Homo sapiens: one gene and its partners. The protein of the gene in region 3 interacts with the protein of the main gene of each other region in a pairwise test. Each region holds a gene or a part of one and is shown on either strand. Other genes may lie near its edges.

The links.
Region 1: the proteins of CLEC17A (region 3) and OLFM4 interact in binary tests that used the Homo sapiens proteins (3 or more experiments, as listed by UniProt).
Region 2: the proteins of CLEC17A (region 3) and CTXN3 interact in binary tests that used the Homo sapiens proteins (3 or more experiments, as listed by UniProt).
Region 4: the proteins of CLEC17A (region 3) and UPK2 interact in binary tests that used the Homo sapiens proteins (3 or more experiments, as listed by UniProt).

Annotation. Positions count from the first base shown.
Region 1 is NC_000013.11:53,038,807-53,045,831, reverse strand, and holds part of OLFM4 (olfactomedin-4 precursor), read right to left. Parts: intron 3,923-7,025; coding exon 3,710-3,922; intron 2,728-3,709; coding exon 2,568-2,727; intron 1-2,567. UniProt on the Homo sapiens protein: May promote proliferation of pancreatic cancer cells by favoring the transition from the S to G2/M phase. In myeloid leukemic cell lines, inhibits cell growth and induces cell differentiation and apoptosis.
Region 2 is NC_000005.10:127,645,068-127,652,106, reverse strand, and holds the start of CTXN3 (cortexin-3), read right to left. Parts: upstream 3,026-7,039; 5' UTR 2,719-3,025; intron 365-2,718; exon of another isoform or gene 286-364; intron 1-285.
Region 3 is NC_000019.10:14,593,076-14,600,100, reverse strand, and holds part of CLEC17A (C-type lectin domain family 17, member A), read right to left. Parts: intron 5,585-7,025; coding exon 5,552-5,584; intron 5,470-5,551; coding exon 5,419-5,469; intron 5,343-5,418; coding exon 5,301-5,342; intron 4,828-5,300; coding exon 4,786-4,827; intron 3,226-4,785; coding exon 3,088-3,225; intron 3,003-3,087; coding exon 2,940-3,002; intron 448-2,939; coding exon of another isoform or gene 410-447; exon of another isoform or gene 385-409; coding exon 289-384; intron 71-288; coding exon 1-70. UniProt on the Homo sapiens protein: Cell surface receptor which may be involved in carbohydrate-mediated communication between cells in the germinal center. Binds glycans with terminal alpha-linked mannose or fucose residues.
Region 4 is NC_000011.10:118,951,848-118,959,067, reverse strand, and holds UPK2 (uroplakin-2 precursor), read right to left. Parts: upstream 2,771-7,220; 5' UTR 2,718-2,770; coding exon 2,642-2,717; intron 2,186-2,641; coding exon 2,054-2,185; intron 1,861-2,053; coding exon 1,722-1,860; intron 1,471-1,721; coding exon 1,400-1,470; intron 972-1,399; coding exon 835-971; 3' UTR 509-834; downstream 1-508. UniProt on the Homo sapiens protein: Component of the asymmetric unit membrane (AUM); a highly specialized biomembrane elaborated by terminally differentiated urothelial cells. May play an important role in regulating the assembly of the AUM.

The DNA of each region.
Region 1 (7,025 bases), on a different chromosome or scaffold from region 3:
AGATTAGAAAGTTCTATGAAATGAGGCAGAAAAAGGACGTTGTTTGTAGCAAAAACCAAATAGGAAGCATATTTTATTGAACCTGGGATACATTCACTTGTTCTAAGTTCAAGCTGACCACTGGGTCAGCAAACTGTAGCTATAAGGGAGGGGGCCCAGAGAGCGCAGAGTTACTTTAGAGCTGAGACTTGCATATAGTCTTTTTTATTCTGTGCAACTCTGCAGTGAAAAAAGCAGACAGGCCAGATTTTAAAGTCCCATAATAGAGAATAACTTTAATTAAAGTCTCCACAGGCTCACAAGTTTGTGGTGCTTGGGGATTTTCCAATTCTGCATTATCAACCAATCCAAACAGAAAGAGAGCAAGTGAAAGAAATTGATTTAAAAACATGACCAAAAGTCAGTTTAATATAAACATCATAAATATAATATGAACAAAGCTGGAAGAGAGCCAAGTGGCTTGGCAGGGATTCAGGTACAGCCAAGGTTGTGGGAAAGTGAGTAAAAATCTGGGTCCAATTTGCTTAAACAACACAGCTGGGCTAGGATGGATCACAGAAGTCTAAGTGTGAGGGCCTAGGGGAAAGTTCTGGGAAAAAAAAAATCCAACAAAAACAACCCAACAGGCTCACTTGTTTTCTTCCCTGGATACTAAGCAATGCATTTTCTCCCCACCGTTGTCCTTGGATTACTGCTGCCTGACACCTTCGGTCCTGAACTGACCAGGGAGCAAAGACCCTTGCCTTGCAGCTTCTGCTCTGTCATTAACTACTTGTGTGGCCTCAGGAAAAGCAGCGTTCTTACCATCCACGTCTTCTCCTCTGAGACAAGACGAGGCTAAGTTAGATGGCCCTGAATATTCCTTCATCTAAAATGTCCTCATTCTAAGGGATGCATAGAAAATTGTGCCAGAAAAATCTATTCCATGAGGAGGATTTGCAAGGGGTGTTGGGGAGCTCGTTCAGGGATTATCAGGAGTTGTCATTGCTTCAGCCTCTGCCTCAGTGAGTCCTCTGTGGTCCACCAGAAACAGCTCTCATTTGCTACATTTTTGCACCACTAATCCCAGACTAAATTTAGCCTTAGTTTATTACAGAGGACAGACCATGTTGTCTGCCCTAAACCTCCTATGCAGGATGCGAAATTTGAACAGTTGTTCAAATTTATGTCACCTCCTTTCTGGAGAAGTTGAAAGGCCATTTCATTCTGGGGCAGGATTCTAACCATTAGATGACACCTGTCATAGTAGGACACACTCCTATTTGCAGAGGGAGGAAAAAAATCCACCTGAAGAAGACCAAGAGGCTTATATCTATGGCTATACCTATTTAATAATTGAAGCCTTAAAAAATCAGTTACAATGACAATAATCCAGAAACACAGTCTAAAAGAAAGCAGGTGTGAGGATTGGAATTCATAAAAATAAAAGGATTGCATGATTTGATGAAAAGATACAGTCCCCACTCAGGCTAAGATGCTCAGGACCTGCAGAGAGAAGGTCCCTGTGTCATTGATATCTCTAAAGGATGGGGCTGAACACTGTGGCTGAGAGGCTTTAGTTTACCTGAAGGAATGCATTGCAGGGCACAGTAATCTGGCACTGCTTTTGTTTTGCTGCAAGGCTTTCGCTTCAATTATCAACATTATTAACAATATCCATTGCCAGCGTGTGAGTGCCGATCATAAGGTTCCGAGCTTCCCAAGCACTGACTCATTAATCCCCACAGCCACCCTGCAAGGCAGGCACTATTATTCTCCCATTTTACAAATGAGGATATTAAGGATCCTTTTTGCTGCAGCCACCTAGCTGAGAAGCTCAGGTCTTTGGAATTCTAAAGCTATGTTCTTGTACCCTACACTCCACTGCCTCTGTTCATGGGTATATTTGCAGAACACCCACCTCTGTGCTGTACTTAACCCCAATGAGAATTCATTAAAGACGAACATGCCACCCCTACTCCAAGAACTCACAATCCATGAGGAATGGCAAGACACACCCACAAGCACATGATATGTGGGGTCATTCCTTTAATCCTCACTGAATCTCAGGACACACAATATAGCAGGTGCTCAGCATGCATTTATAGGAAGAAAAAAGAAAAAATTAAAGAGAAACAGAAGGAGAGAGAGAAGATGGCAGCATCAAAGGCATAAACCCAGCTCATCAGATAAGTGAGCCAATCAGTCCTTAACTCCACAGGAAAGTGGATGCCACACACAGATTCCAGAGGCTTTCCCCTGAGGCCCCTGATAGGGCCTCCATCACCATAGAGATTTTTGTTCCCTGTTAGAAAATGCAAAGAGAATACGTGTAACTCGTGGATTTTGCTTTAAATCAACTCATTGTTTGTGCTCTTCCTCTTTGAAACCCAGAATATGATAGCATGTAGAATACTTGGGAGGAAGGGAATTTTAAAACATGGAAGAGAAAACTGAGAACTGAAAAAAAAAAAAAAAAAACAACCCACCTTCTTCTTTCACCATTGCAATCCCCAATCCCTTCCCCACCCCACTCACAGCTCCTTATGGGGTCTGGCACAAGTGGTTAAAAAAACTGGCATGCTTACCTGGAGTGGGAGGAGGGTGGACGACAGGGGTGTTTTGATCTTTAGAGGCCTCACACTCTTTCAGCTTGGTCTTCAGAGCCACGATTTCTCGGCGAATGGCAAGGACATTGTTTTTGTCTAGTGTCTCAAGCTTCTCTACCAAGAGAGTCATATTTCTTATCTAAGGAAATAAAAATTCAGAGTGACTTTATATTATGGTGCAATTTCTTTCATAAACATTCCAGGGCTGAATTTGTCATTTAGTGAAACATTGCCAGAGAATACACCAGAGATTCTTCTGAATGGTTTCATTTGGAAGAATACATTTTATGGTTTAGCATGAATGCCTGTCAGATCTCAGGCAGATGTGTGTGACAAGAAGAAAATGGCAAAGATTTTAATAGCTTTAATAATAGAGCCCAAGCTCATCCTCAGCATCCACAAATGTCCATTAAAGTTCATTTCTAATAACCTTCCCCTATAAACTTGTGTTTACTCATGTTGTATTATAATTAAGATTCTAATGAATGGTGAGGGCCAGAGAAAGCTTAAATTCTAAAATACGTAACTAGAATTCTCAATTATAGCCCATGTCATGACTGTGCTAGTAAATTTTTGTTGATATAAATTACCCAACCATAACGTTAATGTGATGGTCTTTATCCACAGATCTTAAAAGGCTTTACAGAAATATACAAGAAATTTCTTAAAGGGGGTTTCCAGTTTGCAGAGAAGGATTCCAGGTTATTCAAAAGGAGAAACAAACCTAGCAATTTTACCACAATCAGGTATATTGTGGATTTCTAGTTCCATGAGGATAAATCTAGAGCAGAGAAGACACCTCATATAGCTTGGCCATGAACCGTTGTTCAACTTTATGCCAGCTCCTTTTCAGAGAAGTTGAAAGGGCATTTTATTCTGGGGCAGGATTCTGACCATTAGACAACATCTGCTCCTAAGTCAGCACATTCCCAATGTGCTTAACTTACTATTCAAACACATGCCCTTATCCAAAACAGAACATAGTGATATGCCATGTGGCCATGAGACAGTAGAGAATTAGAAGTTGGAAGAGATAGTTTCACTTCCTGGTACTAGTACTTGCTTACAGTCACTGAAGGGAGTTTATTATTAATTTACCAAGAAGTGAGTTCACTCCTTACCTCCACCTCCAGCTGGTCAACAATTTCTGAGCTTCCACCAAAACTCTCCTTCAGCTGTATGACCAGTTTTTCCATCTCCTTCACTTCTACCTTGATCAGCTCGAAGTCCAGTTCAGTGTAAGAAATGGTATCCTTCTCCATGATGTCAATTCGGACAGTTAGGTTTAACAGTTTCTTTTCATACACACTAATTAATTGGACATATTCCCTCACCTGAAAGAAAATCAAAAGGTTCAAGCCAATTCCCTGAGTAGTATCACACCATCTTCTTCCACTACCGAGCCCTTGAGTTGAGAACTATTTGATTCTTGCCAATCATTGTGTTTTGTAAATAAATAGATCAAAAATACATTTAACTAGATTTTTAAAATCTATCCATATACAAAGAACTTATTACTCCAATTGAAGGGAGGTAGATTTTATACTTTGCTAGGCTAAACATAATTTTGCTTCAGCATCATCATTTGCAGGTATATTTTAATCTCCATTTTTTAAAAAGGTTTTAGGCTCAGGGGTATATACCCAGGTTTGTTATATAGGTAAACTCATGTCATGGGGGTTTGTTGTAAAGGTTATTTTGTCTCGCAGGTACTAAACCTAGCACCCAATAGATTTTTTTGTTGTTGTTCCTCTCCCTCCTTTCACCCTCCACCCTCAAGTACGCTTCTGTTGTTCTCCTCTTTGTGTCCATGTGTTCTCATCATTTAGCTCTCATTTATATGTGAGAACATGTGGTATTTGGTTTTCTGTTCTTGTGTTAATTTGCTTCGGAGAATGGCTTCCAGCTCTCTATCCATGTTCCTACAAAGAACATGATCTCATTCTTTCTTATGGTTGCAAAGTATTCCATGGTGTATATGGCCCATATTTTCTTTATCCAGTGTACCATTGATGAGCATTTAGGTTGATTTCATGTCTTTGCTATTGTGAATAGTACTGCAATGTACACACACGCCCATGTATCTTTATGGTAGAACAATTTATATTCCTTTGGGCATATACCCAGTAAAGGGATTGCTAGGTTGAATAATAGTTCTTTTTAGTTCTTCGAGTCACCACACTGCTTTCCACAATGGCTGAACTAATTTACACTCCCACCAACAGTGTATAAATGTTCCCTTTCCTCTGCCATCTCACCAGCATCTGTTATTTTTTTACTTTTTAATGATAGCCATTCTGGACTGGTATGAGATGGTATCTTACTATGGCTTTGATTTGCATTTCTCTAATGATCAAGTGATATTGAGCCCTTTTTTCTTAATCTCCATTTTAATGTTTGAAGACATTAACTCCCCAAACTAAACTGGTTTGTATCATAGTCTCTTGCCATCTCTCCTCCCTTCAACACACTTACTCTAATTGTTTCTCAACCTCAGCACTGTTAGCATTTGGGACTGGATTGTCATTTCTTGTGGGGGTTGTGCTGTGAATTACACAATATTAAGCAGCATCCCTGGCTTCTTCATGCCAGTTGCATCCAACCACTCTCCAGTTATGATAACCAAAAATGTCTCTGGGCATTGCTAAATGTTCCCTGGGGACAAAATCGTTGCCACGGCCAACACCACCCTCCTTCCATTTAGAAACATGGCTCTACATCTAAGTATTTTCTGGAGAAGGGAGAAATGCGCTATGCCGAATTCCTTCTTTGATCGCCATATACAATTAGTTTTGATCCCCTCTGCCTTTTACAAAGTGGCATAGAGATCCAACCTACTACACAATATGTGAGTGTGTGTGCCCTGTAGAGTACACATTTCATTAAGTGCACCCACATTTATTCCAAGAACTGATTATTGCAATCAGACCTTTAAATTACAGATTTGTTGCATATATTTGAATGTCTGATCATTAAGTTAAAATACTTCCAAAAATTCCCTTGGCAGTTTAGTGTATAATTGGAATATCCAAGTGGATATTTTAATAAACACAGTTGGTGGTTCTTTCTGTGTCTGATCTCTAAAGAAAATGCCATGGCTTTTTTAAGGACCTGCTCATTAAATAAGTTGCTGGCTTTATATGCTTTTTAAAAATTTGAACTGAAGTGATACTTTTCCCAAAACTACACTAATATCAAGTAGCTGATCCACAGTGCCTGGATGAATTTAGAGCCAGATGTTGGCCTTTAATCCTTCTTATACCAAAAGCAATCCTAACTTCTGTCATTTCAGCCCTTCCACTTAACCCCATTGTGCAAATTAAAGTAGACTCATAGACCACAGACCTGAAGGGCTAGGGCTTCAGGCAAAAAGGATTTTAATGAAAGTCGAAAAAACAGTCCTTGGCACTGCTAGTGTATCTCCTCGGGCAACTGATGCTCACTGCCATTGGATGTACCATAACTCGGAGGATGACAAAGCTGGTGATATTTTGGTGGATAGGGAGGTTAAAACATATATACGGCCACCTCTTAGTATCCATGGTGGATTGGTTTCAGAACCTCCCAAGAATAACAAAATTCAAGGATGCTTAAGACTCTGACAGAAAATGGTACAGTATTTGCCTACAATCTACACACATCCTCCCAAATACTTTAAATCAAGTCTAGATTACTTATAATACCTAAAACAATGTAAATGCTATATAAATCATTGTTGTATTGTTTTTTATTTGTATAGTTCCTGTTGTTACATGGTTATTTTTATTAGTTTTTTTCCGTGAAATTTTTCAATCTGAGTTTGGTTATATCTGCAGATGCGGAACCAAGGCTATGGAGGGCTCACTATATATAAAACCTAACAAGTCCCCCTGAGAAGTGCACTGCAGATATAGGGCTGCCAGGTTCCAGTGTCTACAAAACTCAGGCATAAAACCTTGACTATGATAAAAATAAATAAAGTGCCAATCCATTACAGAAATGGAAGTTTGAGAAATAAATATGCTTGTTGGCATTTGGCCTTGCCAGCTCTTGGAACAAATGAAACACCCTCAGCTTCTCTGGAACATTTTGGTGGCACATCGCAGCTGTTGTTCTACAAAAATGAGTGATTCAACTGTCATCTCTGCTAAATAAAATGTGGTTCTCCTAGATTTTCACAAAAAAAAGCAAGGCATATTCTGGAGTTTGTTACCTATAAAAATGTGTGGTGTGCCTGCCCTGGTGCAGACAAAATGAAGGGTCTGTAAAGATCCATTTGAGGAAAAAACTCAAGGTTCTTCAGCTGACACTTAAAGGATGCTCAGTGGTGTTCAGGAAAATGGCAATCATCCATGGAGTTAGAGAAGACACAAAAGAGCTTGGGGATGGGCCAGAAAGACTTCAGAGTGTGAACTTTACTAATTTAAGTAAATCATTCATATGAACTTTTCACATATA
Region 2 (7,039 bases), on a different chromosome or scaffold from region 3:
AAAATCAGCCAGAAATTGAAAGTTACCCTTTTATTTAAGAGGTCAATTCTTTCTTACCTAATCTACTTTTTGGTGGGGAAGGGCAGCCATTTAAAATATCCTGAATCCAAATGTCTTACACAAAAACTATTAATGTCAACATGTACCCTTCTCAGGCTTGGATCCCTTGGACATTTTATTTCATTAGCATCTCATTATACAATTTCACAGTAAGGAAAAAATACTTTCTCTGAAGAAAATGTATCTTAAAGCAATGACATGTTTCTTTTCTTTTTTTTTTTTAAGTGACAGCGACAGAATTACTTAAGTGCATTGGACACCTTGTTCTGTGGAGCCACACACAGGGACTTGATTCTACAGGTCATCAACTCAAGAGCCCACCCTTTTGCAATAGGGTGCAATGATCTAATTAATAGTTGCAGTACCTGTGTAGTCCTGCCTGGCACATAGTGGGGATTTGATAAGTAGGTGGGGATGAATGAGTGTTTTCTTTTTACACCATTTTTGTGCAAAATGTTATTTATTTTTAATTTCTATTATGTGATCAAGCACACTAAGGTATGAAAATTATAAATAAACTGCCCAGAATTATAAAAATCGTTACCAAAAAGGTAGCACCACCCCCTACCACCCCAACGCCAAATGATGGTAGATCCCTAGTTTTTCACTGGCACGTTGGAATGAATTGAAGGTGTCATCCCTCAGGTGTTAACGGCCTGTAGGGTGCAGTGAAGCAATGCTGTCTGTATTTTAAATATTCCTAAACCACATAATTGCAGTACCTAATTTTTAAAACTTCTGGATCAGAAACCTAGTTACGTGACTTGACGTGGTTTCAAAAGTAGGTGTCAAAACAGCCCATCCATTGAGCAAGGACACTCTTGGGCTTGTCCAGTTTCCATTCACATGTGATAGACAGGACACTTTATCCTGCAAAGATATACTATCAACCTTATTTATATTTATCTGGCAGACTAGCGAGACCAATCTTTAGACTTTAACAGGAACGGAATTGCCTAGCTAGGCAGGACTGAATTTGCGGTGACCAACAGAGACAAACTTACTCAAAATGCTGCATTATTCTGCAACAGTTCTGAAGTTAACTGTGGAAATGTTAACATGGCTTTGAATGATTCAAGTAATACACATCCTGATACTGAGCCTAAATAGAATCCCTCTCTACTTTTAGCACTAAAGGAAGCCTGGGCTGCATTCCTGTTTGTATAACTGTAGTCTCTCAAAGTACATTTCATTCTCCAACCCACTCACCCACCCTAGATGTGTAAATCTCCCAAATGATCCTATTATCCATCCCCACCACAACTGTGAGTCATCTGTATAAGCCACCTCGTTATCTAAGCAACAGAATCACCACATAAGCAAATATTATTCCCCTACAAATCTTTTAGAAATTCTGTGTATTATTCTAGTGAACAGTAACTTGCATTCAGGATATACACACAAAGATACAAAATATTTCATATAAATTCAAAGAATTCATGGCCCTCTTGCTTACCAGCAAAGAACTTCAGGTAAAGATTTCCTGGCTCTTTCTAGGTGTTTCATAGATTTTAAATCCTCCCACTCCCCTTGTTTTTGGCTCATATACACGGCAACATCTCTATATTTTTTTCCAAGTACAGCCCTCCTGTTCCAATACAATAGCCCTGATGCTTCAAAATTCAAAGGGGGGCTAAGGGTAAATATATTTTATACTCTCAAAACATAGACTCAAGTCTACTAGAAAGCCTACGAACAATGATTTCATAAACATGAGGATGTCTTCAGCTACAGATGTCAACAGGCAGTTTCAGAACTGTTGCCAGCCCCCACTGCTGCACTGGGAAGTCTGTTCTCTGCTTGTTTCTGCAAAGTCAGCCTGCAGACACGTCTGCTTGGGCTGGGAGTGGACCCTGTTATTCTCAACTCACTGCTGCTTTTAAGCTCTGGGTCAGCAGGAGACCTTTGTCTTCAGCCTCAGCCCCAATCTCAGCTTTACTTCTTCCCCATCTTCATCTTCCTCTTAATATCTGCTTGAGGAATTTTTAAGGGACTGCAGGGCAAGGCTACTGCCTAGCTGAGAACATCAGAAAACACCATGAGGGTGCCTAGTCAGGAATCGGTGGTATCAGAAGGCACCCTTAACGAACTGGAACTTTTAACTTCAAATAATAAGCCCTACTGTTCCACCTGGTTTTCTTTGTCTTTCTTTGTGTGTTTCATAGTGAAAACGGCTACTTGCTGATATCTCAAAAGGATAGTGCTGCACACAGCTTATCAGCCAGGGACAGTCAACGCTGTCAATATGAGTGGTTGAGTTGTGATCCTTTGTAAACAAATCAGAACATCCTTGTTACATTTTGGAAGGTTGGACGTTTTAGGTGACTGAAAAAAAAAATACGATAATGGGCAAACAGCTTTCAGAAATAAATTACTGCAGCTTAGGAAAGAAAAAAAAGCCTGTTTTACTACTTCTTCATCCAGTATCAATAACATTATAAACTTAACCATGCTTTAAAAATAAAGGCATCATTACATTTTACCCCCTCGCTTCTTAACTTTATCTAGCAATTGTTTAATTAGACTTATCTAACAGCTAGATCTAAATTCACAACTATGATCCGAAAGGCATGTATGCGATGATTGCTCATGCATCAATTGTAAAGTTAGAGAAAAGCATTTAATTAGCCCGTCAAAGATACAGGTTGGGTCAAGTACCTGGCTCTGGCTGAACAAACACTTGATCCATTTCCTGGTGGAACAGTTACAGGTAGTTACAAGCCTCTTTAGTTTCCATTCTTCCCGACCACGCTGTGTGAAAGCAGTAGACAGTGGTAGCTGCAAGGCAGCTGATGGCACACCCCAGGTCTAAAGCTGTTGTTTCAGGCTTAGAAACTTCCCATTAAAACCCCGAGTTAAAGGAGCATCGTCTTTCTGTGTGAGGCATCATTAACGGCCAATACTGCTGCTTCTTTGAGGTGAGCCATGATTTCAGTTCTGCCTCAGCAACTCTTCAGAGGATTCTGCTTCAGCGAGTAGAGGCAGTATCCTAGCAGTGTGTCTGAAATCATCTTCAAGAAAGCATTAACATTCAAAAGGAGTACGGGGTTGGGGGGTGGGGAAACATCACAGGCATTCCTATACCTTTTCAAAATCAAAGCCATAAATCTACCAGTGCTCTGTCCTCTTTATTGATTGTTGACACTATTCCTCTTTGGGAGTGTCAATTAGCACGTCGCAGCAAGTCTTCATATTGATTATTGTTGATGACCTTCAGGCCAACTCAATTAACAGGAAGACTTCTGGGGAAGGGCATCAACTTAGCATTTGGGAGAGGGAGAAAAGGCTCATTTTCCTAAAGAAAACTAAAGTGACCTTTCCAAAAAGCAGCATTTATGGGAAGGAAAGAACCATTTAAAAATATCAAAATCATAGTTTCACCACCTGTCACCTGCTTGTAAATTAGCTGGGCAGTTGGTTGCCAGGTCCAGTGTCTCTCTGAGCAGCCTGCATAATTGTGGCATTGGGAAAGCCCCCACCCCACACAGGGCACCTGAGACCACTCGATGAATAAAGAAGATTGATTTTTGTGAGAGAAAGTTGTTCTCATTCTGCAGATTCTAGTTACTTGCTACAATGCTTAAATTACTTTCGTTGGATAAGTAAATTTGGAAAATATTTTAGGATAAAATTCTTCATTAAAAAAACACTTCTCTAAGAAGAATTCAGCCTAATGCTTAAGACGGAGCATCCTTGTTTTTTGGCAACTCACCACTTTCTTTGTTGAAGTGGCGGCACAGTTAGCGACAACACACCCACCCACCAAATGATGGGGTGCGTGATATTTAAAGCTGCCTCTGACTGTGCCTGTCAGCTATGCTGTCTCCTCAGCTCTTGTGAGCAACCGGCCATTACCCAAAGGCTCTAGGAAACTGGAACCAAGCTCATCTTCTAAGAGGGAAACCCCATCTGCTCACAACGGACCACAATCCTGGATAGGATAGGCCTCGGACCCCAAAGGAACCTTTCAAATCAAATGCTAAATGTTAGGATCGAATGCTTGATGTTAGAGTCTAACCTCAAGACAATATGCAGGTTCTTTCCCCATTTGTTTTCCTAATTTTTAACTGAATTTTCTTTCCAATTCATTTTACTTACCCTATTTTCAGACACACACATACCACACACCGTAAGACAATGGGACACATGAAATCCAACTGAGCACGATCATCCTGTACTAACTGGCATCCCTCTTGCATTTAGTCAATTCTGGCAGAGGGAGTGCCTGTTTTGGCAATGCCAACAGAGTGTGGTTGAGGAATCTTTCCGACCTCACCCTCCTTCCTATAATTATCATTCCATGCGGTGAGAAAATATCATAGTTAGACATGAGCCTGGGTGACTGTAGCTTACCCTGCCAAAGAGGCCTTCTCGGATATGGTTTAGCCTACAGACTCGTAGAGGGAGAAGGGAACCTGAAAAGGCCTGGGGCTGTCCTCTAGCTACTCTGCAGGCTGAAACCATCCCAGAGAGATGAGTGCCTGGCCTATTTTAAAAAGTCTCCAGAGAAGTAGATGCCATAACTTCCTCTGACAACCTCTGTTTAAACAAACTCCTCTGCTGCTTACTTAGTCTAAATGTGTTGGCGCATTTCTTTTCATTCTGTCCTTGCTGCAAAAAGTCAGGCACTAACCACTCCAAAATTTTGTTAGAATGCCCTTTCCTTTCAGAGAAGCCGAACTAGATAAACCAAAGAGTATTTGATGAAGATCTGGTGTTATGCTTGGAGCTAAATTTAAACCTTTCTTCTTAAAGATAATTATAATGGAAATTATTAAAATCAGCCCTTCCCCTTATGCAGCTATATTATGTGAATCATCATGAATTCTAAAACAATGAATAAGGGTTTACCAAAGTTCCATTTGAACATTTTATATTAGATCCTATTTCTTTCGCTTTTAATAATCTTTATATCTCTTCTCTGAATTCTTAAAATTTCTGCTCTCTGGTGCAACATTAAATAGGAAGCCTAGAATACTATACCGAGCTGTACACAGCTCAGATACACACGGAATTGTGATGAAACAGGATGATTTTATGATGTATAAATGGCTATATATGCTGTGCTTCTACTTACCCATTCTGATCCAGGGCCACTCCTGGGTGTAACTTAGTCTTTCTCTTTAGTTACACAACATCATGAGTTATTATTAGTTAGAAATCTACTTTAAAAACTTCTACATTTTTATTTCAAGCCTCACCTTTAATGTTCTTTAATTTGCAATTCTTTCCTAAATGTCCTATGATGCACTTTTCCATGAAGAAATAGATAATGAATCTGAAAAAAAGACTATAAGCCATCAGTCTTCATGCCAGTACAAGGCTGTATTATTATTATTACTGTGTTTCTGTCTAACTCTGCCTAATTCTCAAAATAAATTGAACAAAAACTCTATATAACTTTCAAAATATAAACATGGTTCTTATCAATAGACTCTTTGTAAAAATCTTTTCTTCTCTCCTTTGTGTATGTCCTTTCTTTCACTTATCCAGGGATCATTCATTAGCTCTCAATGTCAGATATGTTCTGTGTTAGGTGTTGCAAAAAATAAACAACACGAATACTGGGTCCTGGCTTCTGTTTGTTCAGGTTGTGCACTGAACAACTCTAGGAGATTCCTTGGTAAACAGGGCCCTGAGGAGCTCCACTTCTAGCGATGGTTGCTGAGCTTCTTGACAGACTGGCCCACTTCCACTAAATTCCAATTCCTAACCTTCCCAACCTCCCCCTTCATGGCTCACCCAGCAGACATCTGAACTGTCTCCTCACCTTTCTACAGGACCTGATTTCACAAGGTCACTAGTGGCTTCTGGTTGCCTCAAGCCAAAGAGTCCTTTTAGTGTTCATCTTCCTTGCTTTTTGGCAACATTGAACACAGCTGAACACTCACTGAAAGGAAGGTTCAGAAAAAGAACACATGGATTAAAATGAGTGGCGGGAACATATATCTCAGCCCTTAGGCCCCTCTCCCTTAGTGCCTTCTCTCTTCATCGCCTCTCTATTGCACTCTGGGGTTCAGGCCAAATAAAATTCATGCAACTACCAGCAAATGGGAAATGAAGGTGGAAAGACAAGCAGGCTAGAATACATGTTAATAACCCCGCCACTTTTTAATTCATTTTAAAAAAGTGCTAGTCAGTTTATGTGTGTTATTTTTATTTCTGTCTTCTTGTTTTAAAAAAAATATATCAGGCAACATAAAGCTTTGCTTTAAAAAAAAAAAAGTCAAGATTAGCTCTATTTCTAAAATCTCTCTGATTTGCCAGGTCTAAGTTTATTTATCCATTCAGCTATCTTCACAGATCAGTGAACATTCAAAGCTTAAGGGAACAGTGGGAAAGGTTTAATGATATTCACACCAAGCCTATACATTGGGATCTATATTTAAGAGCTATTAAAAGCAAGCAGGTTAAAGTCCAACTGCAGATTGGCAGCCTCCTTGTTTGATCTTTTCTTGAATGCATTTCTGTATATATCACATCTGTTTTAATGCTAAATGCTCAATTAGTAGCTGATACATCTAGAATAGAGAAGCACTCAAAATGAAGACGAGAATGCTGCAACGAAGTGGAAATATATGTGCAAGAAAAAAAACACTGACAGAATTTAATACTTGTGAGGATTATAGATTGCCCTATAAAATTTTGTTAATCCTTTCCTGTATAAGTAAGAACAAAGCATATAGCTAGGTGATGAATCATGCTGCCAAAAAGCTGATCTCCAACCCTAAGAAGGAGCAGCTTCACAAAATACACAGCAGTAGTTCTATTTAGAAGCAACATTTGCAACATTTAAGTTATTAATTCTAATTACAGTATAAAAGTATAAGGACATCACTATGGATTATTCACTGTTCAAAGGAAATACTTTGGCTCTAACAGCCTGGTGGGTAAATTTATTCTTTTAAAGTGACTTGTACAATAATAACAATTTTCTTAATGGGTTTGAAATACTTAATGCCTTTAAAATATCATACAA
Region 3 (7,025 bases):
CTTGGGGAGAAGTAGTAACACTTGCCCTCAAAGGGCAGCCAGCCTTCAGGACAGGTAATTCGGCGGCAGTCTGGGAACCAGACAGAATGCTGTCAGGATGGCCCCAGAACCTGAGCCATGTACATAGTATGCCATGTACAGTTGTGCAGGCTGTACACTGCTCAACTCCGGTGAGGGGGAGGGGCACCATTCACATAGACTGCACTGAGAATGACTTCAATGGAGTGATGTAATGTGCCAGCTCTGCCATGCCCCCCATCCCTGGGCAATTCCCCAAGTCTCACTTACCTAATAAGCCCCAAAGTTCCACCAGGGACTGGTTGGTGTCAGCTCTTACACGGGCAATGTCATGCTTCAGGCCAGCTAGCCCTGCCATGCCAGTCACTGTCAGAAGGGATGGGCTTGAGGGCTACAGACTGAGAACCCATCCTACCCATCCACCACGGACTGCAGACACATCAGAGAGAGAAGCAAGGGTTGTGTTCCCCACTGTGTCCACATTCCAGTGGGTCACGCTTGCGCTCAAAAACCACATGTACAGTGCTCAGAATCCGAGAATGGCTCAGAGGAGGGATCAATCCCGGGGATGTGGGGAAAAGTAGGGGTGGTGGGCACCCTGAAAGAAGTGGGTTTTAAAGGAAGAAAGTGATTCGATAACTGTGAGGTGAGGAAGAGGCACATTAGGCAGGGACTATCTTAAAAGCAAAGATGCAGGCTGCCCATGGTGGCTCACACCTGTAATCCCAGCACTTTGGGAGGCCGAGGTGGGCGGATCATCTGAGGTCAAGAGTTCAAGACCAGCCTGGCCAACATGGTAAAACCCTGTCTCTACTAAAAATACAAAAATTAGTTGGGCGTGGTGGTACATGCCTGTAATCCCAGCTACTCAGGAGGCTGAGGCAGGAGAATCACTTGAACCCGGAAGGCAGAGGTTGCAGTGAGCCAAGATCACACCACTGTGCTCCAGCCTGGGCAAGAGAGTGAGACTTCATCTCAAAAAAAAAAAAAAAAAAAAAAAAAAGCAAAGATACAGAGGCAAGTATGTTGTGGTGAGGCGGCAAAGCCTATAAGAGTGGAGGGAAAACTCAGAAAAGCTTGAGATCAAAGCAGAATGAGCTCAGATGCCTGGATCCTTTATTTTATTTTTTTTAGACACAGTCCTGCTCTGTCCCACAGGCTGGAGTGCAATCGTGGTTCACTGCAGCTTCAACCTCCTGGGCTCAAGTGATCCTCCCACCTCAGCCTCCTGAGTAGCTGGGACTACAGGTACATGACATCATGACTGGCTATTTTTTTAAAATTTGTTGTAGAAACAAGGTCTTGCTAGGCCGGGCGCAGTGGCTCATGCCCATAATCCCAGAACTTTGGGAGGCTGACGCAGATGGGTCACCTGAGGTCAGGAGTTCGAGACCAGCCTGGCCAACAGGGTGAAACCCCATCTCTACTAAAAATACAAAAAATTAGCCGGGAGTGGTGGCAGATGCCTGTAATCTGAGCTATTCAGGAGGCTGAGGCAGGACAATCACTTGAACCTGGGAGGGGGAGGTTGCAGTGAGCTGAGATCGCGCCACTGTACTCCGGCCTGGGCAACAAGAGCAAAATTCTGTCAAAAGAAAGAAAGCAAGAGAGAAAGAAAGTAAGAAGGAAGGAAAGAAGGAAGGAAGGAGAAAGAGGGAGAGAAGAAAGGAAGGAAGGAAGGAAGGAGAAGGGAAGGGAAGGAAGGAAGGAAGAAAGGAAGGAAAAAGAAAAAGAAAGAAAGAAAGAAAGAGATAGTGAGAGAGAGAGAGAGAGAGAGAAAGAAAGAACAAACAAACGAAAGAAAGTCTTGCTGTGCCCAGGCTGGTCTTGAACTCCTGGCCTCAAGGGATCCTCCCACCTTGGCCACCCAAAGTGCTAGGATTACAGACATGAGCCACTGTGCCCAGCCTAATATGTGGATCCTTGAATGCCAAGCTAAAGGTTTCACCTTGGACTCTGGACAATGAGAAGCCATTGATGGGTTTTGAGCTTGCTTGTTATGAAGCATAGGGTGAGGCAGTGTGGAATGGAGAAATATTCAGACTTTGGCAGTCATGATGAAGGCCAACCCAGGTCAAAAGATTCTTCTATAATTAACGTGTGTATTATCACTACTCCCCCACGAACTCTTCCCTTTTTCAACACTCGCTAGCTCAGTAGCTGGCCCTTCAGTTGGACAAAACAGAAACACAGGTTTTAGGCCAGGCACGAAACACTTCAGGAGGCTGCGGCAGGAGGAATACCTGAGGCCAGGAGTTTGAAACGAGCTTAGTCAACATAGTGAGACCTCTTCTATACAAAAAAAAAATTTTTTAACCAGCCGGGTGTGATGGCATGCGCCTATGTCCCAGCTACTCAAGAGGCTGAGGCAGGAGGATCTCTTGAGTGTGATCATGGCTCATGATCAACCTCAAACTCCCTGATTCAGGAGATCCTCCCACTTCGGCCTCTTGAGTAGTTGGGATGACAAGCACACACCACACACCACCACACCCGGCTAATTTTTTTTAGAGATGGAGCCTTGCTGTGTTGCCCAGTCGGGTCTCGAACTTCTGGCCTCAAGCAATCCTGCCTCAGCCTCCAAAAGTGCTGGGATTACAGGCATGTGCCACTGCACCTGGACCAGTGTGTATTTCATACTTAGTGCTCATCTCAGTTTGGACTGGCCACATTTCAAGTGTTCAACAGCCACATATGGCTTGTGGCCACCATATTGGATGGTGGAGGTCTGGACACATATACACATGCACACTTCACACAGTCAGACAAAGACTGTGTCTGACATGTTTACCATTTTAACCCCCTGGTACCTAGCACAGTGCCCAGCAAAGATGGGGATGAGGTTGGATCTTGGAGTTGGATCTGAGGATTGGGTTAGGGCTCAATAGGAGTGGCATGAAGGAATGACTGAAAGCACTCACTATTTGTTCGCCACGTCATCTGCTGAAAGCTTAACATTCTCAGTTCTTCCATCAACTCCTGGTCTATGAAGAAGAGTCCAAATTGAGCCCAGGTCCTCCTGTGCACCCTCCCCAATCTCTCCCCATGTCCCTTCCTGGCCCTACTCACACTTAATCAGGGTCACAGTGAGACCAAGGCAGCCCAGGAACAGGGAAGTCACCACCAGCAGACACAGGTACACCATCCACCTCTTCTGGCAGCAGCCAGGACCTCCAGACCTCTGATTGAGCCAGGGGACTGGAGTTGCTGGGGAGTGGGGATGGGAACAGAGAGACTGATACTGGGGCTTCAGAGAGTAAGGAAGAGACTCTTAAGTCTTTGTCCAAGAGCAGGGGGCAGAAGTCTGTAGTCATGACTGTTTCAGCAGATGAAGTCAGCAAGAGAGGGTTAGGGAGAGTGAACCCTGGGGAGGCTCAGGGTCTTTTTGATGCATTTACGGTGCGCTAAGCATCATGTTGCATCCTTCTCTTTTTCCTTCTTTCCTTCTTGAAACAAGGTTTCACTCTGTCATCCAGGCTGGAGGGCAGTGGCACAGTTATAGCTCACTGCAACCTCTAATGCCTGGGCTCAAGCAATCCTCCCACCTCACCCTTTCAAGTAGCTGGGTCTATAGATGTGTGCCACTAGGCCCAGCTAATTTATTTTATTTTTTTGCAGAGATGGGGGTCTCGCCATGTTGTCCAGGATGGTCTTGAACTCCTGGCATCAAGAGATCCTCCCTGCTTCAGCCTCCCAAAGTGCTGGGATTACAGGCGTAAGCCACTGTACCCAACCTACATCCTTCCTATCTTATTGGAGTCTCATCCTTATGATGTAGGTTATAAGCATTATTCCCATTTTGCAAGTGAGTAAACTGAGGCTTGGTGAGGTTAGGCATGACTTGGACACAGCTTTGTTCTTAATATCTATGATGCATCATCTTCTACTCTCCAGAAACCCCTGACCAAGTTGCTCCTAGGTCAAGGAAGCTTGTGGACCCCGGCTTCTAGAGCAGAGAACATTTCCCATATCTTATGCAAGCAGATACCTGAGTTTCTGGAGATCTGGCCTAGACTCAGAGAGGAGAAGCTTCTTTTTCTTTTTAAACATGGTCATCACCAACACCATCACTACCTCCACCATCACCACCATCATCTCTACCAACAACATTGTCATTGTCAACAATACCATCACTGCCTCTACTATCATCACCAACACCATCACCACCAACACCATCACTACCACCACTATCATCATCACCATCTCACTAACACCATCACTACCTTCATCATCACCACCACCACCATCACCAACAATACCATCACTACCTCCGCCCTGCATTACCACCATATCACTGTTTCCACCATCATTACCATCATCAATACCAACAACACCATCACTATCTCCACCATCACCACCATCATCAGTATCTCCACCATCACCATCAGCACACAACAACGCCATCACTACCTCTACCATCGTTACTACCACCAACCATCCTCTTCCTTTCCATCATCTCCTTCCTCATCCTTCCATCACAATCACCAACAGAACCATAAGTACATCATCATTATCAAAAACAAAACAACCACATAACTCTGGTCCTCAGAAGGACAAAAAAGAATACACGTTTGCAAACTCTGATGTCAAGGAATGGCTTTCTCACTTAGAGCAGCGCTCACTAGACTAACTCAGAACAGTGCAGCAGGTCCTGAAGGAGCAGCTTCTTAAAGGAGAAGTTCCTCTGACTCAGGGTCTCACTGTAGAGCCATAGGTCTCAATCAGATACACTAGCCACTGTCAGAGGGGAAATGGGAGGACACTTACCGGCCAGGGATGGCTGCAATGGAGAAGGCTCAAGATTCACAGCTGGGAGAAAGGGGGAGAGAGGTTTATTCAGAAGATGCCAAAGACTCTGTCTTCCAAGATCAACAACCTCTGTTTTGTTCTCTGGTCAGAATTTAGGGGGCTGGCTGTGGGCAGTGGCTCACGCCTGTAATTCCAGCACTGTCGGAGGCTGAGGCGGGTGGATCACCTGAGGTCAGGAGTTTGAGACCAGCCTGGCCAACATGGCAAAACCCCATCTCTATTAAAAATACAAAACTTAGCCAGGTGTGGTGGTTCGTGCCTGTAGTCCCAGCTACTCAGGAGGCTGAAGCAGGAGAATCACTTGAACCCAGGAGGCAGAGGTTGCAGTGAGCCAGTATCGCACCACTGCACTCCAGCCTGGATGACAGTGAGACTCTGTCTCAAAAAAAATAAATAAATAAAAATTGGGGGATTGAAAGGAAACATCCAGGTATCCCCTCTTAGGCATCTTAAAGGGTCTTCCCACTGCTCACCCAGTTGAGGAGGTGGACAGGTGACAGCGGCGAGGTCCAGGCCTAGAAGAGATGAGAAAGTCATTTCAAGAAGGGCTTCAGCCAGGTGAGCAGGAAGACTCCAACTGTCAGCTCTCACCTGTCATGTTCCGGGGCTTGCAAGGAAGTGGGGGTTTCTCTGTTTCCTTTGCTGAGGAGGGAGGAATGGTTGGTCAGGGCCAGAGCAGGGCAAAGCCAGCTCTGGGTCTCCTACACCCCCAGCCCCAACTCACCTGCCCTTGGAGGTCTTGGTGGAGCACTTGAACCTGGAGAAGAGAAGCTCAGGGTGAGGGCTGGGCTGAGGATGGGAATGCGCCAAGAGGAAGTGATGGAAACAGGGTTAGGATTGCAGTGGAGGATTGGAGATTAGGTTACAGACGGGGTTGGACGTAAGAATGCAATTGGGATTAGGGATGGAGATGGGATTAAGTAGGGTGACCAACGAACCTAGATTGCCTGGGTATCTCCCTATTTTATTTTATTTTTTATTTTATTTTATATTTTTTGAGACAGAGTCTTGCTCTGTTGCTCAGACTGGAGTGCAGTGGCGTGATCTCATCTCACTGAAACCTCCGCCCCCTGGGTTCAAGCAATTCTGCCTCAGCCCCCTCAGCTGGGATTACAGGCGTATGCTACCACGCCCAGCTAACTTTTATATTTTTAGTAGAGACAGGATTCCACCATGTTGGCCAGGCTGGTCTCGAACTCCTGACCTCAAGTGATCCACCCGCCTTGGCCTCCCAAAGTGCTGGGATTACAGGGCTGAGCCACCGTGCCCGGCCATGTTTTTGTTTGTTTGTTTGTTTGTTTGTTTGTTTTATGAGACAGAGTCTCTCTCTGTCTCCCAGGCTGGAGTTCAGTGGCGCGATCTTGGCTCACTGCAACCTCCGCCTCCCAGGTTCACGCCATTCTCCTGCCTCAGTCTCCCAAGTAGCTGGGACTACAGGTGCCCACCACCACACCCAGCTAATTTTTTGTATTTTTTTAATAGAGACGGGGTTTCACCGTGTTAGCTAGGATGGTCTCAATCTCCTGACCTCGTGATCCACCCGCCTCAGCCTCCCAAAGTGCTGGGATTACAGGCGTGAGCCACCGCACCCAGCCCGTGTTCTATTTTTTTAAAGACAGTGCCTTGCTCTGTCATCCAGACTGGAGTGCAGTGGTGCCATCATAGCTCACTGCACCCTTGAACTCCCGGGTTCTAGCAATCCTACCACCTCGGCCTCCTGAGAAGCTGGGACAACAGGCACACATCCCACAACTGGCTAATTTTTTTAATTTGAAAAAAAAAATGTTTTCATATAGCTGGGGGTTTCACTGTGTTACCCAGGATGGTCTCTTTTCTGGGGCTCCAGTGATGCTCCCACCTTGGCTTCCCAAAGTGCTAGAATTACAAGCATGAGCCACCACGCCTGGCCCAAACTTCCCTTTTTTTTTTTTTTTTTTTTTGGTAGAGATGGGCGTCTTGCTATATATTGCCCAAGCTGGTCTCGAACTCCTGGCCTCCAGTGAACTCATGGCTAAGTGATCCTCCCATCTTGGCCTCCCAAAGCAGTGGGACTACAGACACACACCACTGCAACCAGCCCAAACCTCCACTTTTATATCCTCTGATCAGATTCTTGTTGAACCCTGGGCTATGCCTTGGGTTTATTGAGATTCAAGATTAAATAAAGCCCTGGGCTTTGAGTGGTAATGAGAGGAGAT
Region 4 (7,220 bases), on a different chromosome or scaffold from region 3:
CCCGAACACCTGGCTATTTTTTTTTTTTTAATATTTAGTAGAGACGGGGTTTCATCATGTTGGCCAGGCTGGTCTCAAACTCCTGACCTCAAGCCAGCTGACCGCCTTGGCCTCCCAAAGTGGTGGGATTACAGGCATGAGCCACTGCACCTGGCCTGTCTTTTCCCAGACAGATCCTCTCCTCTTTTCCCTAGCACTTCCCTTGCTCTGCCTGCCCCCCACCCCCACCCCCAGGCCTCCAGGCCTCCACATGGGGCACCAGCCCCAGCTTCTGCCCTGACCTGCACCCCTAGTTGAGTGGCCCACTGTGTACTGTGGATGCTGCCAAACCCACAGCCCCGGTGTGTCTCTGAGAACTCTGACTGCTGGGCTCTTACTGGCCCCTGCCTGCCTCATGGGAAAAGTAACTCTGGGCTGTGGGGCAGGGAGGGGACCAGGAGCACCTGCAGCTTGGACATAGATTCCACAGGTTTGAGCCAAGGTAGAGCCCACTAAAGGGAAACACATGTGGCAGATGCAGCCTCAGCCTTTATTATAGGGACTTAGTTCACTGAAGGATGGGGGAATTGTTATGGGGGTGTTTAAAGTGGTAAAATGGGAGGAAAGTCAACTCTGACAGGAGTGGGGTGAGAGGAATAATGGAGTGTTGGAAGGTGAGGCACTGGGGGCAAGGAGAGGGACAGAGGGAGGAGAGGGCTCTAGGGGAGAGGAGGGCAGGAGGAGGAGGCGAGGGCACCAAGGGAGCCACAGGCCTGGGGCCTGGGAGCAGGTGGGCTGGGGAGCTGGATGGTGCCCTGGGCTTCCTGGAGAAGCTGCTGCTCCGGGCAGACCTCCTTACTTGCGGGAGCCCAGTGCCAGGGCAATGATGAAGCCCAGCACCAGCAGGAACATGGCGACAGAGAGCAGCACCGTGATGACCACCATGCCCCCTGTGCGGGCCATACCCAGCCCAATGGATTCCATGTTCCTTCCTGTCAAAAGAGAGGGGAGACCACTGTGGGCGGGAGAGACCCCCAGCCTGCCTGAGGCTCACGGCCTCACACTCATCCAGCCAACAGACTGCCCAACCAACCAGCCAGCCAGCCAGCCAGCCAGCCAGCCAACCAACCAACCAACCAACCAGCTGATGGATCCAAACACCCATCACATAGACATTTATGAAGCATCTCCTATGTCAGCCGCTGAGGAAAAGTTAAGAGGACACAGTCCCTGCCCACGAGGAACCTTTAGCTGAGTGTGCAGTAGCCATGCCGAAGGTTCCGTGCTAGGATAGAGGTAAGCAGGGGCCCCGAGGGCGCACGGGGAGGCACAGGCAACCCAGACTGGGGATGAGGCAGGAATGGTCAGGGAAGCGTTTGTGGCCGCTGAGATGGGAAAGGGAGGCGGGAGTGTTACTTACGAGGGAGTGTGGACATTGGGATCTCTCTGCTGGACTCAGTGGCTGTCCCCTTCTTCACTAGGTAGGAAATGCTTTTGTGGTTTGGGAGAGAGTAGAGAACCCTCAGTGAGTATTGGGACTTACAGGAAGAGGGGCTCCAGCCTGGGCCACCTACCCTCACAGCTGTGTCTCCCCTATGTGCACTCCTCCAAGAGGCCCAGCTTTCACCCCCTTTTGCTGTGCCCTCACCCTCTCCTCATGCCCACCAGATCTCCCCCACACTAGCTTCTCTCTCTTCCTGCACCCCCTTCCCTAGGTGCCTCAGGCTGGACCCAGTACCTACTAGAATTTGGTTCCTGGCACGAGGTTTGTCACCTGGTATGCACTGAGCCGAGTGACTGTGAAGCCAGCACCACTGTCCACCACACTCACCAGTTCCCTGCGCCCACGGCACGGAGGCACCACAAAGCTGGACGTCACCACTGGGCAGAAGTGGCGGGAGGGGAAGACTGGGTCAAGTTTCTGGAGGCCCCAAGGAGAAGGGGCAGCTTTTAGAGTGTGGGTACCCCAGGAGACGGGTGGACAGGAAGGCATGAATGGGGAAAAGGGTGCAGAGGGTGTCGCAGGAAGGGGTCTTTGGGGACTAGAGGGATGCCTTGGGAGAAGGTAGCAGACCTTTGCTGTCATTGGCTCTCCGGACCATCAGTGTGGCATTGCCTCCTGTGAGGTGACAGGGGGGCAAGGCAACCAGCAGGCTCTCCGTTAGCGCCGGGGACAGCAGACCAGAGAGGCTTGAGATGTTGAAGTCTGATGGGAGGCAGGAGGGAGCTCCGATGGGGACTGACCCCTCCTGGCCAACAGATCTGGCCCGGTCCCATTGGAGCCATCTCCCTTTCCACTCTGTGAACCCTGGGCAGAACAGCCAGGCCTGTGCCAGTATGACCACCAGGTGGCAGGCTTGGGCTGCAGAAGCTGCACCCTCCACCAAGCGGTCCCCAGAGCCAGAACCTGGATGCCAGGAGTCGGGCAGCGCCCAACCTCACCCCTCCCCGCAGCATCGGATCCTTGCCCACACCTCTCTGCCTCCTAGGTCTGGAGGAGGATCAGGAGTGTACCCTGAGCCCAGTGTCTGATACCCAGTCACTGCCATCACCAGCCCTGACTCCCAACTGTCCAGACCTCTCTTTGAGAGCCCTGGAAGGTACAGTGCTCCCTGTCCAGGCCCCCAGCCCCCTTCCCACCCCTGCCAGAGATGGAAGAGACCTGCAGCCCCTGGGGACAGCAGAGCCAGCAGAATCAGGATCAAGGGCAAGGTCCGGATGGGCAGCAGGGGTGCCATGCTGGGCTGGGAGGTGGAATAGGTGCTGGCAGGCTGGGGTTCCTGAGGCAAGTGAGGCCCTGCCCCTGGGGTGGCTGATTTTGTCCTGGGGGTGGGAGGGGCTGGAGGGGAATCCAGTCCAACCTGCCCCTTGGGCCCTATAGCCTCAAAGGGGTGGGGAGAGCAGACAGGTTTTTCAGGATGGGGAGCTGGCCCTCAGGCCAGGAGGGGGGATGCCCTGGCTGGGTCTTGATGGTGTAACTAAGGTGGGGAAAGAAATCACCCCTTCTTCTGGGACTCCCGTGCATAAGGCAGTGTTCCTGTGTGCACGGGCATCTGGAGACTGGCCAGTCCTTGGAGGACTGCTCCCCCGATGTGGTGGGGGTCTTTCCCCCACCCCTCAGAAGGGTGATGAGTTTGGAAGTTGCCCTGATATGTAGGAAGAGAATACTCCAAGGGGCTACTGAAAGGGCCTTGAGTGGGTAAGAATGGGAGAGAAACATTCTGGTGGGGAGGGGCAGCAGACTGAGGGTTTCAATTCTTGGAGTGCACTGAGGCTTAGGTACTGCTGCTCTGGGAGAGGCAGGGGCTGTGGGGGCCAGGGAGCACATGCGGTTTCAGATTCCTCTGGAGGGTGGGGACGAAGGTGGCCATGGAAGACTTCTGGAGAGACCAGAGAGACAGACATTGACCCTGGCCAGCAGGGGTTGGGGGTGGGCACAGTCAGCCTTGGGCAGCAACCATTTGTTGAACTGAGAATGGAGAAAAGAGACCTCGTAAGATAACATGAAAAAGAGACAGAACTTCCCTGACTGCCTCCTCCAGCCCTGGGCTACATCAGAAAGAAGCAGAGGAGTTCTGAGCAGAGGGAGGGGAGAGGAGTCAGGACGTCTTCCGGGCCCTGGGTAGGGGTTCTGTGTGCTCCATTGTAGCCCTACAGCCACCCTGGGTGGTAGCTGGTACTGGCTTCCTTTTGTAGTAGAACTGAGGCCAGGCACAGTGGCTCATGCCTGTAATCCCAGCACTTTGGGAGGCCAAGGTGGGAGGATCACTCGAGGCCAGGAGTTCAAGACCAGCCTAGGCAACACAGAGAGTTTGATCTCTATTAAAATAGAAAAGAGATCAGCCGGGCGTGGTGGCTCATGCCTGTAATCCCAGCACTTTGGGAGGCCGAGGTGGGCGGATCACCTGAGGTCAGGAGTTCGAGATCAGCCTGGCCAATATGGCGAAACACCATCTCTACCAAAAATACAAAAACTAACGCGGTGGTGTGTGCCTGTAATCCCAGCTACTCGGGAGGCTGAGACAGGAGAAACACTGGAACCCAGGAGGTGGAGGTTGCAGTGAGCCGAGATTGTGCCCCTGCACTCCAGCCTGGGCAACTAAGTGAAACTCTGTCTCAGAAAATTGAGAGAGAGAGAGAGAGAGAAAAGTGGAAACTGAGACTCAGACACATAGAGTTACTTGTGGAAAGTGGAATACTTTGTCGGGAGAGGCTGTAGAACTTCCAGAAGCCTGAGAGCTGTACAGAGACTGTTGCTGTATATCTGTTTGCTCCACGAACTATTCTATCTTCCTCAGTCCCAGGGAAGCTTAGGGTCCTGGTAGGAATGTGAGGGAGGTTGTGTCCTTACCGCCAAGGTGGGAAGGGTAGGCTCAAAGTTTGGGGTGAGTGGAGAATGACAGTAAAGGAAGAACTCATGGGCCTAAGCAGAGAGTAGGAGGGTCTTACGCCAGTGCATCTCCAAATTTAATATGCGTATGAATTACCAGGGATCTTGTTAAGATGCAGCTTCTCATGCAGTCATGCAGTGGGTCTGGGGTGAAGCCTGAAATTCTGCATTTTTTTTTTTTTTTGAGACAGAGTCTCGCTGTGTCACCCAGGCTGGAGTGCAGTGGCGTGATCTCGGCTCACTGCAACCTCTGCCTCCCAGGTTCAAACGATTCTCCTGCCTCAGCCTCCTGAGTAACTGGGATTATAGGCATGTGCCACCATTCCCAGCTAATTTTTGCATTTTTAGTAGAGATGAGGTTTCACCATGTTGGCCAGGCTGGTCTCAAACTCCTGACCACAAGTGATCCACCCGCCTTGGCCTCCCAGAGTGTTGGGATTACAGGTGTGAGCCACCGTGCCCAATCAATTCTGCATTTCTAGTGACTTCCCCGTAACACTGATGATGCCGGTCTGAAAGGCCCACACTTGAAGTTGCCAGCTGCTCTGTATTGGTAAACAGCATCCCCACCCCCAGCTGGATCCTCTTCCACGGACATCAGGGATCAGGGCAGGTGTTCCTTCCCAATCTGCCCGAACAGGCTGCTTTTGGGTGAAGAATTTGGTTCTGTTTTTCCTGCACCTTGGCTTTTGATTCCACCACCACTGCACAAATGGAAAGAGGGTCTCTTGCACATTAAGGACAACTTGGGAGAGAGGGGACAGATTAAATGGTGGAATGCCAGGGTGAGGGGATCTTCCTGGTACTCCTCAAAACCTGTCACCCACCAGTAAGTTGTTTACACTTGAACTGGGAGGTCTTTCTCCTCATTCACAACCAAGAAGCAGAAAGAAGAGGTTGGGTTTATTGCAGGGTGGGTTGAGTTGGGTCCACTCTTAAGCCCCCATCCCCATCTAAAATTATGAGTGGTACAGAGTGGAGTAGGGGAGGGCAGATCTCTGATCAGATTTTAAAGGGATAAGAGGGCCCTGTGCCTTTAAGCTCTCCCTTCTCCCTCCAATCCCCCCCCCCCACCTTCCCCACCCCAGCCCTCCCCAGGTTTCTGGAGGAGCGGGGAGTTGCGTCTTCTCCCTGCCCTGCCGAGCTGCTCACTGGCTGCTCTGGAGGCTGTGCTTTGCGGTCTCCATGGAAACCATTAGTTGCTAAGCAACTGGAGCATCATCTGTGCTGAGCTCTCGCATCTAATTATCCCATCACAGCAGCCGAGAAGGGTTTGGGGAGCTGAGAGGAGGGGGAGGCCAAGCCCAGGAGCAAGAGGATAACTCTTTTAGCAGAGCAGATTCATTGACAATGCTGAAGTCAGTTAAAGCCACAGCACCATGTTCCTCTGGAGGATTTCCCAATGGCTTGGAGTAAGGGAACCAGGGCCACATGCCTGAAGTCTCTGTCTTGGACCCACTCTTTCTAGGCTGTCTCCTCCTTGGATTCTTGATTCTAAACTCTCTTGAGTTCCCTCCCCTGCCTCCTCTCTTCCAAATCTCCTATTCAAGCACTCCTATTGCGTACCAACTATGTCCTTGGAACTGCACTAGCCACCAGGGATATAAAGGTAAGATAAGTCTCTGCCCTCAGGGAGCTCTTAACAGCTCTAGTCTGCTCAGCCTAGAAGACTATCTCCTAAAACAAACTTCTTTCTGGACTGTGGCACCTTTTTTTTTTTTTTTTTTTTTTCACTTGAACTATGGCAGTTCTTCAACCAGGAGAGCTGGGATCAGAACCCAGGTCCGTCTGACATGCCCAGGGTTCTCCTTCCAGAGTGCCACTCTCTGCCTCCCAGTCAATTAGAAAAACATGTCTACTTGGCTGCATGGCCATGTCAGCCTCTGATGGCAGCTACTGTCCTCTTGTTGATGAGATACCATGTAACTTTAGGTGGACTTCAATGTTCTCACATTTAAAATGGAAGACTTGGCCAGGTGCGGTGGCTCACGCCTGTAATCCCAGCAGTTTGGGAGGCCGAGGCGGGTGGATTACCTGAGGTCAGGAGTTTGAGACCAGCCTGGCCAACATGGTGAAACCCTGTCTCTACTAAAAATACAAAAATCAGCCGGGTGTGGTGATGCATGCCTGTAATCCCAGCTACTTGGGAGGCTGAGGCAGGAGAATCGCTTGAATCCAGGAGGTGGAACTTGCAGTGAGCTGAAATCATGCCACTGCACTCCAGCCTAGGCAACAGAGTGAGACTCCATCTCAATAAAATGAAATAAAAAATGGCAGACTCACCAGGCACAGTGACACATGCCTGTCATCTCAGCACTTTGGGAGGCTGAAGTAGGAGGATCACTTGGGACCTGGAGTTTGAGACCAGCCTTGTGACGCAGCAAGGCTCCATCTCTACAAAACTGAAAAAAAAATTATGGCCAGGCGCTGTGGCTCACAGCCTGTAATCCCAGCACTTTGGGAAGCCAAGGTGGGAAGATTGCTTGAGCCCAGGAGTTCAAGACCAGCCTGGGTGATATAGTGACATCTCTTCTCTATTAAAAAAAAAAAAAAAAAAGCCTGGGCACGGTGGCTCACGCCTGTAATCCCAGCACTTTGGGAGGCTGAGGCGGGCAGATTATAAAGTCAGGAGTTCGAGACCAGTCTGGCCAACATAGCGAAACCCCGTCTCTACTAAAAATACAAAAAATTAGCAGGTATGGTGGTGTGCGCCTGTAATCCCAGCTACTTGGGAGGCTGAGGCAGGGGAATTGTGTGAACCCGGGAGGCGGAGGTTGCAGTGAGCCGAGGTCCCACCATTGCACTTCAGCCTGGGTGACAGTGCGAGACCCCGTCTCAAAAACAAAAACAA